Regions from separate parts of the Homo sapiens genome. Here regions 2 and 3 are each linked to region 1. The links come from fine-mapping of genetic effects on gene expression. A gene starts in region 1. Each other region holds a variant in brackets. All regions are shown on one strand. Distances are from middle to middle. Region 1 holds the start of RGCC (regulator of cell cycle). Region 2 has its middle 29 kb from the start of RGCC. Region 3 overlaps LOC105370174 (a long non-coding RNA gene).

Region 1 (4,241 bases):
AGCAGAAAACAGACACATATAACCTAAGCAAAACTACAAACTATCCCAACTATCTCCCCTGAAACTGTTAAGAATGTGTTTCTATGTCTTCTCTTTAAGGCATCTGAAAACAGATTCTAGATCTGAAATCCCACCCAGTGGAAGTTGCAATCAGCCATGAATGGGCGCGCTCAGACCTATTCTAGTAGAGTGAGGCTGTTGCTTAGAAAGGAGCTGTTCTTTGCCACAGAGCAGCAGCGACACACTATCCTAGCTTTCTTTTCCATGCGAGAATCTGTATTTGATGAATAACTTGCTCCATGCCCCAGTAGGAGGAGACATATTTAAGTTTGGCCTTTAGAATTGAGACAAATTTCAAAAATGTTAACACTTTGCTTTGAAATTGAAAATGAACCTATTCATTAAGAACAAAGTCCAAAAATTCTAAGTGGAAAAGTAACAGTACTTTCTTCCATCCCCTTTCACCTCAAAAGCTGCAGCTTGGTCTAACTCTTTGGCAGTGCTGCCAAGGAAACAAGCTGGAACTCAGCTTCCTGAGTCAAACCCTGACCAGGGTGGTGAGCGCATTTATCCCTTTGCAGAAGGGCAGCTCATGTTCATGTCTAGCCCCGAATCTTAGCCCAGGAACAAGGAAGAGCTCCAGGTTTCAAAATAAGAGAATCACACGGAAAGGCCATTACTTTCACGTCCTGAGTCAAGGGCAGCAAAAGGAGTGACATTCATGCCTGTAACCCATCTAAGGATTAAAGGCTGAAGAATAACACAGAAGAGTTTAAAATTGACTTTGCCCTTTGAAAAACAATAAGCAATTCTGGATTTGAAACCAACAATCATGTAATATTAAAAAGGCACCTAATTTGCTGTTTGAGGTACCTGTAATCCTCCCAGGACATGTGAGTTCCTGGAAAAAGCTGTCTCTTTTGTTGTTTTTGTTGTTGTTGCTGTTGTTGACAAAGTTGTTCAGGACAAAGAGACCCTGGGGTAGTCTCCATTGTGAGAAAGATCACCAGGAACCACCTTCATGCCCATGTGCTCTCTGGCTCCCCCTCCAGCCTGGTGGAGGACCTGGCTGAAAAATACTTGAACTCAGCAGTGCCAAAGATTTTCATAACTGCATGCAATGGAGCAACAAGTCTGAGAGCTAAGGGCCAGAAGACAATGCAAGCAGTTATTTCATAAATCCCAAGAACAGCAGTTTGGGCTTATGAAACCTTTCCTGGTTTCATGAATATTTCCGTTCTGCGCCCTCCCATGTCCCCACTGTGCCCCCTCATTCCACTGGCACTTGTTCCACATCTGCAAAGTTACAGCTGAGAGGGGAGAGGCACGGAAAGGAGAAGAGGAGGGAAACTGCGGAAAGGCCTGGTGCAGGTCCAGGGAGTCCTGTCTGGCTGAGTCGGGACAAGCTGCTTAAACTCGCCTGCCTGGTGACACACCCGTGGGCGGCAAGTGAACCAACCTGCCCTCCAGCGACCTTTCCCGTGATTATCGTCAGGGGCCCCGCCACCACTCGGCCTACTGCGTTGAGCTTCAGGAAACCATTCCTCAGTTTACTGATAAGAAAACTGAGGCCGCAGCCTTCGCGGGGCAGGTCCTGGGAGCTGGGAGATCCCGGCGCCATCCTAGCGGGGGCCGCACTTACTCTCCGAGTCGCTGAAGCCGCTGCTGTCGCTGACACTGGCGCTGCTGCGCCGCTTCATGCGCTCCAGGTGCTCCTCGTAGTGGAAGTGGCGCTCGTGGAAGGGCGACGCGAAGTCGGCCAGCACCGCGTCAAACTCGCACAGCGCGTCCGACAGGTCCTCCGCGGCCGCCGAGTCCAGGGCCGGGGCTGCGGGCAGGGCCAGGGGCTCAGTGCACGGAAGTCAGGGGGGCAGCGGGACCACCTCCCAGGGCCAGGAGGGGCCGCCACGGTTCCCGAAGATAACTGACACTTGGCGCCTCTGCCAAGTGACAGCCACGCAGTCGCTGTTACCTTGTAATCTTCTCCACCACCCCCGAAGTGCGTTCTATTACCAAGTCCGTTTTACAGACAAGAAAACTGAGCCTTCGCCAGGCCCAGGGTCACCCAGCGACTTGGCGCGGCCAGATTCCTCCCCAGGCGCTGCCGGTTACCTGTCCCCGCCGCTCCCCCCAACCCCGGGCGCGCGCGGAGCTGGTGGTGGAGGGAAGGTGGGACATGGGGGCCAGCCCGGGCCGGAAAGGAGGCTGCAGCCGCCCGCGCGGGAAGACCGGGGACAGGTTCCCGCCGGGGAGGATGGAAGGGTGGGGGGTGTGAAGGGACGACACGGGGCCCCTCCTTTCTCACCCGCCATCTGCAGAGCCGAGACTTTAAGGGGACCCCGGACCCCGCACTCACCTGCGGCCGCGGCGGCCGCGGGGCTGCCCTGCGCCGCGGGCGGCTTCATGAGGCGGCTCAGCTGGGCCCGGCGCGCGTGGCCTTGGGTCCTGCGAGGTGGCAGCCGGGGCTATTCGGGGGCTTGCTGTCCCGCACACTTCAGCCCTGCCAGTCCCTTCGGCGCTGCGCTCCAGCCGCGCCGCTCCCAGCACGGTCCGCGCCCGCCCTACCACCGGCTCGGGTTCCTAGATCTTATAGCCTTCGGCGGCCGGAGCGGAGGCGGGGCCGGGGCGGGGCTGCGGAGCCGGGGCGACGGGTCTGTCCCCGCCGCCCTCCGAGGAGGCCCCTGCCCCCAGGCACCGCCCTCGCCACGCGCCCGCCCTGGAACCGCGGTGACGAGGAGTCGCCGAAGCCCCGGTTACAGCCCCAAATATTTACCCGCCTCTCGCCCCCGCGCCCTGACAACCCGGCCCACGCGGTGTCCTCGGCGTCACCAGAGCTGACTGCTGGGCGCGAGCTCTGCTGCTTCCCGCCGCGTGCCAGGCACCTCCGCGAGCCGCAGCTTCCTCGGCTGTGAAGTGGACGTGGGCATGCAGAGCCTCCCTGGCTGGCGGTGAGGGACGAAGGAGCCCGCGGCCGTGTCCCAGTCGGGTGTCGGGGACGCGGAGGTCCCCTACGCATTGTCCCAAGGGGACTTCCGAGATGGTGGGCGGGCGGAGTGGAGAGGGTCGGGGCGAGAGGGGCAGGAGTTGGGGGAGTCCTGAACTGTTCCCACCGCGGAGCGCGGGGGCCTGAACTACGGTCCAGGGCGCTCCCGCCAGCCTGACTTTATCTAGAAGGGGTTTATTATGGGAAGAAACTACTGCGTCGACGCAGCGCGAACAGGGCGCCTTGCAGTGTCCACGGAGTAACGAGCCACCCTGCCCCGCGGCCTGCGGGGGCGAACGCCCTGGACTGTGCGCTGAGCTAGGCGCTAGCCTCTCGCCTCTCACCACAGACGGCTAATTAAATGTAGAGCAATTAACATGTAACGGAGTGAAACATTCAGCCTCCACTCCCAGCTAGTTTTTGTATTTTTAGCAGAGACGGGGTTTGTCCATGTTGGCCAGGCTGGTCTCGAACTCCCGACCTCAGGTGATCTGCCCACCTCAGCCTCCCAAAGTGCTGGGATTACAGGCGTGAGCCACCGCACCCAGCCAGGATTTGTTTTCAGAATATAGAAAGACCCATCTACAAAGTAATCACAAATAGACAACCTGGTAAAAATTAAAAATGAGCAAAACATTGAAACATACACCTCACAAAGGAGTATATGTTAATGACCACTAATCATATGAATAGTCCTCCTCTCTTGTCTACTCTGGGTGGCCTAGGGATATGCTTGTCTTGTGGAGGCACAAGCACTGTGGGCTCAAGAGTGGGGAGCCTCTTTCCCTGTTAAGGGGAGGACACCACTGGGATCTCTGGTGCCATCTCCTGCAATGGATCCTCTGATGTGGGGTCGAACAGAACTTCAGGAGTTGATTTCCCTGGGTGAGTGGAGCGGGATCCTTCCTTAGCTATCTGTCCCTTTGCTACTAGTATTGCTGCTGCATGCCCTCAGCCACTGTGGGGGTTCTAGCACCAGCTGTCACCAAGTGTCTATGTATGGGAACTGGTCTAGGTATCTTTACCAGTTACCTTGTGCCACGCCTTAGAAACAAGGGACCTGTCCAGGCTTCCTTCTGATGGCCAACCCACTTCTAATGGTGCGCAATCTATTTCCCACAAGGTTCTAAGTTCCCCTGGTGGTCTAGTGCTTAGGATTCGGTGCTCTCACCGCTGCTGCCTGCGTTCGATTCCCGGTCAGGGAACAAAGAAATGGAGCATGGATGAGCAGCGGACAAAACCCCTCAGACAGCGGATT
Region 2 (4,241 bases), 29 kb before region 1:
ACTTGTATCCAGAATACATTGTAAACTCCTACGACTTAGCCAGGAACAGTGGCTCATGCCTGTAATACTAGCACTTTGGGAGGCTGAGGCAAGTGGATTGCTTGCATCCAGGAGTTAGAGACCAGCCTGGGCAACACGGCAAAATTTCATCTCTACAAAAAAATACAAAAATTAGGCGGGTGTGGTGGCATGCACCTGTAATTCCAGCTACTCATTAGGCTGAGGTGGGAGGATCACTTGAGCCTAGGAGTTTGAGGCTGCAGTGAGCCGTGATGGCACTACTGCACTCCAACCTGGGTGACAGAGTGACACCATCTCAAAAGAAAAAAAGAAAAGAAAGCTCCTACAACTAAACAGAAAGAAGACAACCTAGGGAGAGGTGGAGCAAGATGGAATAGAAAGCTCCACAGATCATCACCTCCCACAAGGACACCAATTTAACAACAATTAAACAATTTAAAAGCACCTTTCCTTTGCTTTAAAAGCAACTATTAACAATTTAAAAGCACCTTTGTAAGACCCAAAAATCAAGTGAATTCTCACAGTACCTGGTTTTAACTTCATATCTCTGAGAGAGGCACTGAAACCAGCAATTGTGAGGCATTGAATTCAGTGCTACCCTTGTTATAAGAGAAAGCAAAACCAGACCAAACTAAGCTGACACATGCCCACAGAGGAAACATTTAAACCCTAGACAGAGGGGAATCTCTGATCCCAGCAGTACGAACTTCAGTTCCCGCAAGCCTCATCACCTTGGACTAAAGTACTCTGGAGCCCCAGATACACTTGAAAGGCAGTCTAGGCCACAAGGATTGTAACACCTAGGCAATTCCTGGGATGAACTGGGCCCAGAAACAGTGGACTAGGGGAAGCACGTGACCTACTGAGACACCAGTTGGGGTGTCTAAGGGAGTGCTGGCATCACCCCCCACCCACCCCGGGTTGCATAGCTCATGGCTCCAAAAGTGACCCCTTCCTTTTGCTTCAGGAGAGGAGATGGAAGAGTTAGGAGGACTTTGTCTTTCATCTTGGATACCAGCTCAGCCACAGCAGGATAGGGCACTGGTGAGAGTCATGGGGCCCCCATTCCAGGCCCTAGCCCCTGGACATTTCTAGCCACACCTTGGCCCAGAAGAGAATCTGCAGCCTTGAAGGAAAAGACCCAGTCCTAGCAAGATTCATCACCTGCTAACTAAAGAGCCCTTAGGTCCTGAATACCAGCAGCAATACCCAGGTACTAGGTTGAGGGTCTTGGGTGAGACACTGAGTCTTGCTGGATTCAGGTGAGACTCAGCACTTTCCCAGCTCTGGTGGCTATGGGGCAAGACTCCTGCTTGAGACAGTGGAGCAAAAAGTAAAGGGAACTTTGTCTTGCAACTTAGATATCAGCTCAGCCACAGTGGGGTAGAGAACCAAGTATTCTCTTGGGGTTCCCTATTCCAGGACTTGGCTGTTGGATGGCATTTCTAGACCTGTGTAGAGGGTCCACTCCTCTGAAAGGTGAGTCCCAGGCCAGGCAGCATTCACCACGAGCTGACTCAGGTGGCCTTGAACCTTAAGGGAACATCAGTGGTAGTCTGGCAGTACTCCATGTGGGCCTGAGGTGACAGTGGTCATGGAGTGAGGCTCCTCTACCTCTGGAATGGAGAGGGAAGAGTGGGAAGGACTGTGTCTTATGGTGTGAGCGCCAGCTGAGTGACAGGAAAATAGAACACCAGGCAGACTTCTAAGGTTTTTGCCTCTAGTCTCTGACTCCAAGAAGGTACCTCTGGACCCAC[C/T]CAATGCCTGGGGGAATTTGCTGCCCTGAAGGGAAGGACACAGGCCTGGCTGGCTTTGCCACCTGCTGATTGTAAAACCCCCAGGCTTTGAACTAACATAGGCAGTAGAAAGGGAGTGGTTACAGCAGGCCTCAGACAAGACCCAGTGCTGTGCTAGCTTCAGGTCTGACCCAGAGCAGTCCTAGGGTTGGTGGCCACAAGGGTGCTTGTGTCACTCCACTCCTAGCTCCAGGTGGCTCAGAACAAAGAGAGAGAGAGAGAGAGAGAGCACCCATTTGTTTGGGAAACAATAAGAGAAGAGAACAAGAGTCTCTGCCTGGAAACCCAGATAATTCTTCCAGATCTTGTCCGAGACTATCAAGGTGGTACTTCTATGAGTCTGGAAGAACCACCACATTACTGGGCTTGGGGTCTTCCCTAAAGCAGATACAGCTTAGATTATAACACTCAAGTCCTTTTGAATATCTGGAAAACCTTGCCAAAAAGGATAGGTACAAACAGGCCCAGACCATAAAGACTACAATAAATACCTACCTCTTCAATGCCCAGAAACAGACGAACTTCTACAACTATTAATACAATCTAGGAAAACATGACCTCACCAAATGAACCAAATAAGGCACTGGGGACCAATCCTGGAGAAACAGAGATATGTGACCTTTCAGACAGAGAATTCATAATAGCTGTTTTGAGCAAACTCAAAGAAATTCAAGATGACACAGAGAAGGAATTCAGAACTCTATCAGATAAATTTAACAAGAGATTGAAATAATTAAAAAGAATCAAGCAGAAATTCTGGAGTTGAAAAATGCAACTGGCATACTGAATAATGCATCAGAGTCTTTTAGTAGCAGAACTGATCAAGCAGAAAAAAGAGCTAGTGAACTTGAAGACAGGCTATTTGAAAATGTACAGTCAGAGGAGACAGAATAAAAAAGAATGAAACAAGCTATTTGAAAATGCAGTCAGAGGAGACAAAATAAAAAAGAATGAAAAAGAATGAAGCATGCCTACAGGATCTAGAAAATAGCCTCTAAAGAGCAAATCTAAGAGGTATTGGCCTTAAAGAGGAGATAGAAAGAGGAGAAGAAAGTCTATTCAAAATGATAATAACAGAGAATTTCCAACACCTAGAGAAAGATATCAATATCCAAGTACAAGAAGGTTATAGAGCACCAAACAGATATAACCCAAAGAAGACTATCTCAAGGCATTTAACAATCAAACTCCCAAAGGTCAAGGATAAAGAAAGGATGCCAAAAGCAGCAAAAGAAAAGAAAAAAATAACACACAATGGAGTTCCAACATGTCTGGCAGCAGATTTTTCAGTGGAAACTTTATAGACCAGGAGAGAGTGCAATGATGTATTTAAAATGCTGAAGGAAAAAACTTTTACCCTAGAATAGTATATCCAGCAAAATTATCCTTCAAACCTGAAAGGGAAATAAAAGACTTTCCCAGACAAACAAAAGCTGAGGGATTTCATCAACCCCAGAAATGTCCTACAAGAAATGCTAAAGGGAGGACTTCAATCAGAAATAAAAGGACATTAATGAGCAATAAGGAATCATCCGAAGGTACAAAACTCACTGGTAATAGTAAGTACACAGAAAAACACAGATTATTATAACACTGTAACTATGATGTGTAAGCTACTCTTAAGTAGAAAGACTAAACAATGAACCAATCAAAAATAATAATTACGACAACTTTTCAAGACATAGATAATACAATAAGATATAAACAGCAACAACGAAGTTTAAAAGTGGAGGGACAAATTTAAGGCATAGCATCTTTGTTAGTTTTCTTTTTGCTTGCTTGTTTGCTTATGCAAACAGTTTTAAGTTGTTATCCACTTAAAATAATGGGTTATAAGATAGTGTTTGCAAGCCTCAAGGTAACCTCAAACTAAAATCCATACAACATAAGCACAAAATATAAAAAGCAAGAAACTAAATCACATCACCAGAGAAAATTACCTTCACTAAAATGAAGACAGGTAGGAAAGAAAGGACAGAGAGGAAGGCCACAGAACAATCAGAAAACAACTGACAAAATGGCAGAAGTCCTCACTTATCAGTAGTAACACTGATTGTTGGCCAGGTGTGGTGGCTCACACCTGTAATCCCAGCATTTTGGGAGGCCAAGGCGGGTGGATCACCTGAGATCAGGAGTTCGAGACCAGCCTGGCTAACATGGTGAAAACCCATCTCTACTAAAAATAGAAAAAAAAGTAGCCAGCTGTGGTAGTGGGTGCCTGTAATCCCAGCTACTTAGGAGGCTGAGGCTGGAGAATCACTTGAACACAGGAGGTGGAGGTTGCAGTGAGCCAAGATCACACCATTGCATTCCAGCCTGGGTGACAAGAGCAAAACTCTGCCTCAAAAAAAAAACAAAATAGTAACCTTGATTGTAAATGAACTAAACTCTCCAATCAAAAGACATAGACTGGTTGAATGGATG
Region 3 (4,241 bases), 75 kb before region 1:
ATGGATGAAACTGGAAACCATCATTCTCAGCAAACTATCGCAAGGACAAAAAACCAAACACTGCATGTTCTCACTCATAGGTGGGAACTGAACAATGAGAACACATGGACACAGGAAGGGTAACATCACACACCGGGGCCTGTTGTGGGGTGGGGGGAGGGGGGAGGGATAGCATTAGGAGATATACCTAATGTAAATGACGAGTTAATGGGTGCAGCACACCAACATGGCACATGTATACATATGTAACAAACCTGCACGTTGTGCACATGTACCCTAAAACTTAAACTATAATAATAATAAAATTAAAAAAAAGAAAAGAAAATTCACAGATGACAGAAAATTCATGATTTATAAAGGAACAATCATTTCCTCATAGCCAGACTGTGAAACAAACACAAAACAAAAAGGAACAATCATAAGGAAAAAATGTTTTCTTCTCAGGCACTCAACCAATGGCACTTAAAAGTAGGATATCAGTCAGGCACGGTGGCTCACACCTGTAATCCCAGCACATGAGGAGACCGAAACAGGCAGATCATGAGGTCAGGAGTTAGAGACCAGCCGGGCCAACATGGTGAAACCCGTCTCTCCTAAGAATACAAAAATTAGCCTAGTGTGGTGATGGGCACCTGTAATCCCAGCTACTCGGGAGGCTGAGGCAGGAGAATTGCTTGAACCCAGGAGGCGGAGGTTGCAGTGAGCCGAGATCACGCCACTGCACTGCAGCCTGGGTGATAGAGCAAGACTTTGTGTCGAAAAAAAGCGGAATGTCATTTTTTATGTCTTGTAGTTCCAGTAATACGAGAGTGTAGTGAGATGAGCCCCTCACACTCCGTTGCCAGAAGAATAAATATCGGAATAATATTCATCCTCCATCAGTTATATCTAGTTTGCTCTTTCACGTTTGATGTTGTTTATAGCATTGGGCCACTGCATTCTGAGGATTTAGACATCTTCTCCAAAGGAAATTGAGCCCCCTCCCTGAAGCTGCAACAAGAGCATCCTGAGCTCCAGCCTGAGCAGGGCTGAGAGTGTTTGTATGGGTTTGAGATAGAAGGATCTTCCAGAACAAGCCTTTCCTGTGTTCCGCCAACCATTGGCAAGAGAGCTCTGTCCCGTGGGGTGTGGATAACGTGCATATCAGAAGCATCCTCGCCTGATTCCAAGTCTTCTGGTAGCTCCGTTTTGCCAGACAGGCAGGGCGTTTTCTTGGAAACTTGTAAGTGTCACATTTTGTGTAAACAGGGAGTTCCACTAGAGTCTTTCATCATCACAACACATAAAAGATACATTAAGAAATTCCTGAAATTGCAGCCTTAAGACAGAGGACCCAGCTCTATGCCACAGGCTCACACATTCTTCGGGTGGTCGATTGCATCTTACATTTTAAAATCTCTCAGCAGTGATGATAGAGTAGGTAAAGAAAGTACCTTGGAAAATCCTACAAAACCATCAGGTGTTTTGGTCTACAAGAAGGAGTAGGGAAGTAAGAAACACTATTGTGAGGGTTCAGGGCCCCACGATGGGCAGCACAGCTCACTTCTGTTCAAAGTAGTTTCATTTTACCTGCTCCCGGATACACAGAAACCTCACTACAAGATTCCAAAGGAGCAGACTGGGGAGGATTATCACCTTCCAAACCCAGAGCTGACCTCCCTCTCACTGCGGCTTCAGCAATTCTTTCTGCAGGTGGGACATCGGCTAAAGGGCCTCTATTCCCACAGAACCCAGCCAAACGTAGGTGGGCAAGAGGAACACGGTAGGACCAGAGGCTCCTGAAAATTGCCGGTGGCTGCATCTTTTGGGAGAAACCATTTGCAATATGAATTGAAAGTCTCTGCTCTCTCAGAGCTTTTAAGATTTTTTCTACATGTCATTGTCATTATAAAATTGTAAGAGGATATATTTAGATTTGAATCTTTTTTTTTTCATTGTTCA[T/C]GCTCAACACTCAACAGACTCTTTTATTCTAAAGATGTATTGGCTTTCTTCAGTTTGGGAATATTTTTTCTATTATTTTTTAGGTAAGAGACTGGGAGTGGTGGCTCATGCCTGTCATCCCAGCACTTTGGGAGGCTGAAGTGGGAGGATCAGTTGAGGGCAACAGTTCCAGACCAGCTTGGTCAACACAGTGAGACCCCATCTCTATAAAAAAAATTTTTAAAGATTAGTGTCAAATTATGACAATAATTAACAGTAAAAATAAATTCCTTTACATTAGGTAAATGACGAGTTAATGGGTGCAGCACACCAACATGGCACATGCATACATATGTAACAAACCTACACATTGTGCACACATACCCTAGAACTTAAAGTATAATAAAAAAATAAATTCCTTAAATAATAATTTTTAAAGCCCTTTACATGTAAAGCTAAAGCCCACCATTCCCAATCCCTCTCCATGCCCAACCTTACCTAAAGGAACCACTATTATGAGTTTGAAATATAAATGCACAGTGTACGCACGCACACACACACAAACACATTTAAGAGATATATATATTACTTTGAAGAGTTTTCATCCTTTCTTTTCTTTCGTCCTTCTTTCCTTCTTCTTTTTTTTAGGAATGGGTTCTTGCCATGTTGTCCAGGATGGACTCAAACTCCTGGGTTCAAGAGATCCTCCTGCCTCAGCCTCAGAATAGCTAGGACTTCAGGTGCCACCTCACCCAGCTTTTTGTGGGGTGGGAAGGGAGGGCTTTTTCTGTCTTTTAAGGACTTCCCTACCCCAAAGTCAAAACGACATATTTCTTCTATGTTTCTTTAAAATATTTTGTGGTTTTGTTTTGGACATTTAGGCCTTTAAACAAGTGGGAATTTACATTCGTGCATAATGCAAGGTGGGGATTCAACACCTTTTTCTTCTCTATGAATAACCAATTAGACCAACTGTGCTTACTGACCCATCTATCCCCACATACTGGAGTGCCATTTTGTCACACACCAAATGCCCATGTGTATATTGGTCTGTTCCATGGTCTGAGTGTTGATGTCCCCCAGAATTCATACATTGAAACATAATCCCCAATGTCATGGTATTAGAAGGCACGGTGCTTGGGAGGTGACTAGGCCGTGAGAGTGGAGCCCTTAAGAATGGAATAAGTGCCCTTATAAAAGGGACTCCAGAGAGCTCCCTTTTCTCTTCTGCCATGTGAGGACACAGTGAGAAGGCACCATCTATGAATCAGGGAATGTGAGCCCTCAGCCAGCACTGAACCTGCTGACGCCTCAGTCTTGGACTTCCTGGCCTCTAGAACTGTGAGAAACAATTCTTATAAACAGTTCTTCTAAACTGTTATTTATATGCCACCCAGGCTATGGTATTTTGTTATAGCAGCCCAAACAGACTAACACAGTCTAGTTCTTGAGTTTATTCTGTCCTACTAATCTACTTGCCTATTCTATAGCAATGTCACAATTTCCATTTCTATAACTTTAAAATATATCCTATTAGGTTGAGAAAAAAGCCCCTCTTCTGATTCTTTTGGCTATTTCTTTTTTAAAAGATGGGTAATACATGCCTAGAGTACAAAATTCACAAAGCATGGTATAAAGTCACCCTCTTTCTTTCACTGCTGTTCCCCAGCTATACAGTTTTCCTCCCCAGAGGAAATCTCTTCCATTTTTTTCCAGGAATATCCTAGGCATATATCAGCATACAATTATGGAAGTATTCAGTATGTATTTTGTAAATCCTTCCTATCAGTATATATAAAACTGTCTCATTCTTCTACATTCCACTGTATGAAAACCATGTTATTTATCCAGCCTCCCATTGCAGACAGTAAGCTTGCTTCTGAGATTTTACTTTTCAAAATAATGTTTCAGGAAGTATGCATGCATATACATTCTACACATGTGAACATATCTGTCCAATAAATCCTTAGACGTGTGACTATAGTCAAAGAGCACTGACACGTGTTTTTAATTCTGATAACAATGCTAGAGGTTCCATCTGTTTATATTCTTATCTTAGATATGTTGACATACTTCCCTGCACATCCCCGCCAACACAACATGCTATCAAACTTTTGGGTTTGATACCAGATAGATGAAAAATGGCATCTCATTGTCCATATTTGCATTTACTTTATTATGAGTGGGTCAGTCATCTTCTCATATGTTTAAGAACCATTCGTACTTCCTTTTCTTGTTCTTTGCTCTTTTTCTTTGATGGTGGTTCTTTTTCTTATTGACTTGAGAGAGCACATTGTTATATTAAATAACTTAATTTCTGT

The links. PIP is the estimated chance that this variant, and not a neighbour inherited with it, causes the effect.
Region 2: its variant is the best candidate, but not a certain one, in a credible set for the expression of RGCC in nasal epithelium (TOPMed, PIP 0.73).
Region 3: its variant is the best candidate, but not a certain one, in a credible set for the expression of RGCC in whole blood (TOPMed, PIP 0.83).

Annotation. Positions count from the first base shown.
Region 1 is chr13:41,455,872-41,460,112 of GRCh38, reverse strand. It overlaps RGCC (regulator of cell cycle), which reads right to left and starts at 2,563. Exons shown (of 5, transcript NM_014059.3): 1 at 2,357-2,563; 2 at 1,643-1,828. The coding sequence starts at 2,405. RefSeq lists enhancers at 1,521-1,650, 1,700-2,377 and a silencer at 1,951-2,790.
Region 2 is chr13:41,484,749-41,488,989 of GRCh38, reverse strand. No RefSeq gene overlaps it. Among named protein-coding and RNA genes, the nearest start is that of RGCC, 29 kb to the right of the region's middle. The variant C/T (reference allele first, on the strand shown) is at 1,779.
Region 3 is chr13:41,530,816-41,535,056 of GRCh38, reverse strand. All of the region lies in intron 1 of LOC105370174 (a long non-coding RNA gene), which reads right to left. Among named protein-coding and RNA genes, the nearest start is that of MIR5006, 35 kb to the left of the region's middle. The variant T/C (reference allele first, on the strand shown) is at 1,942.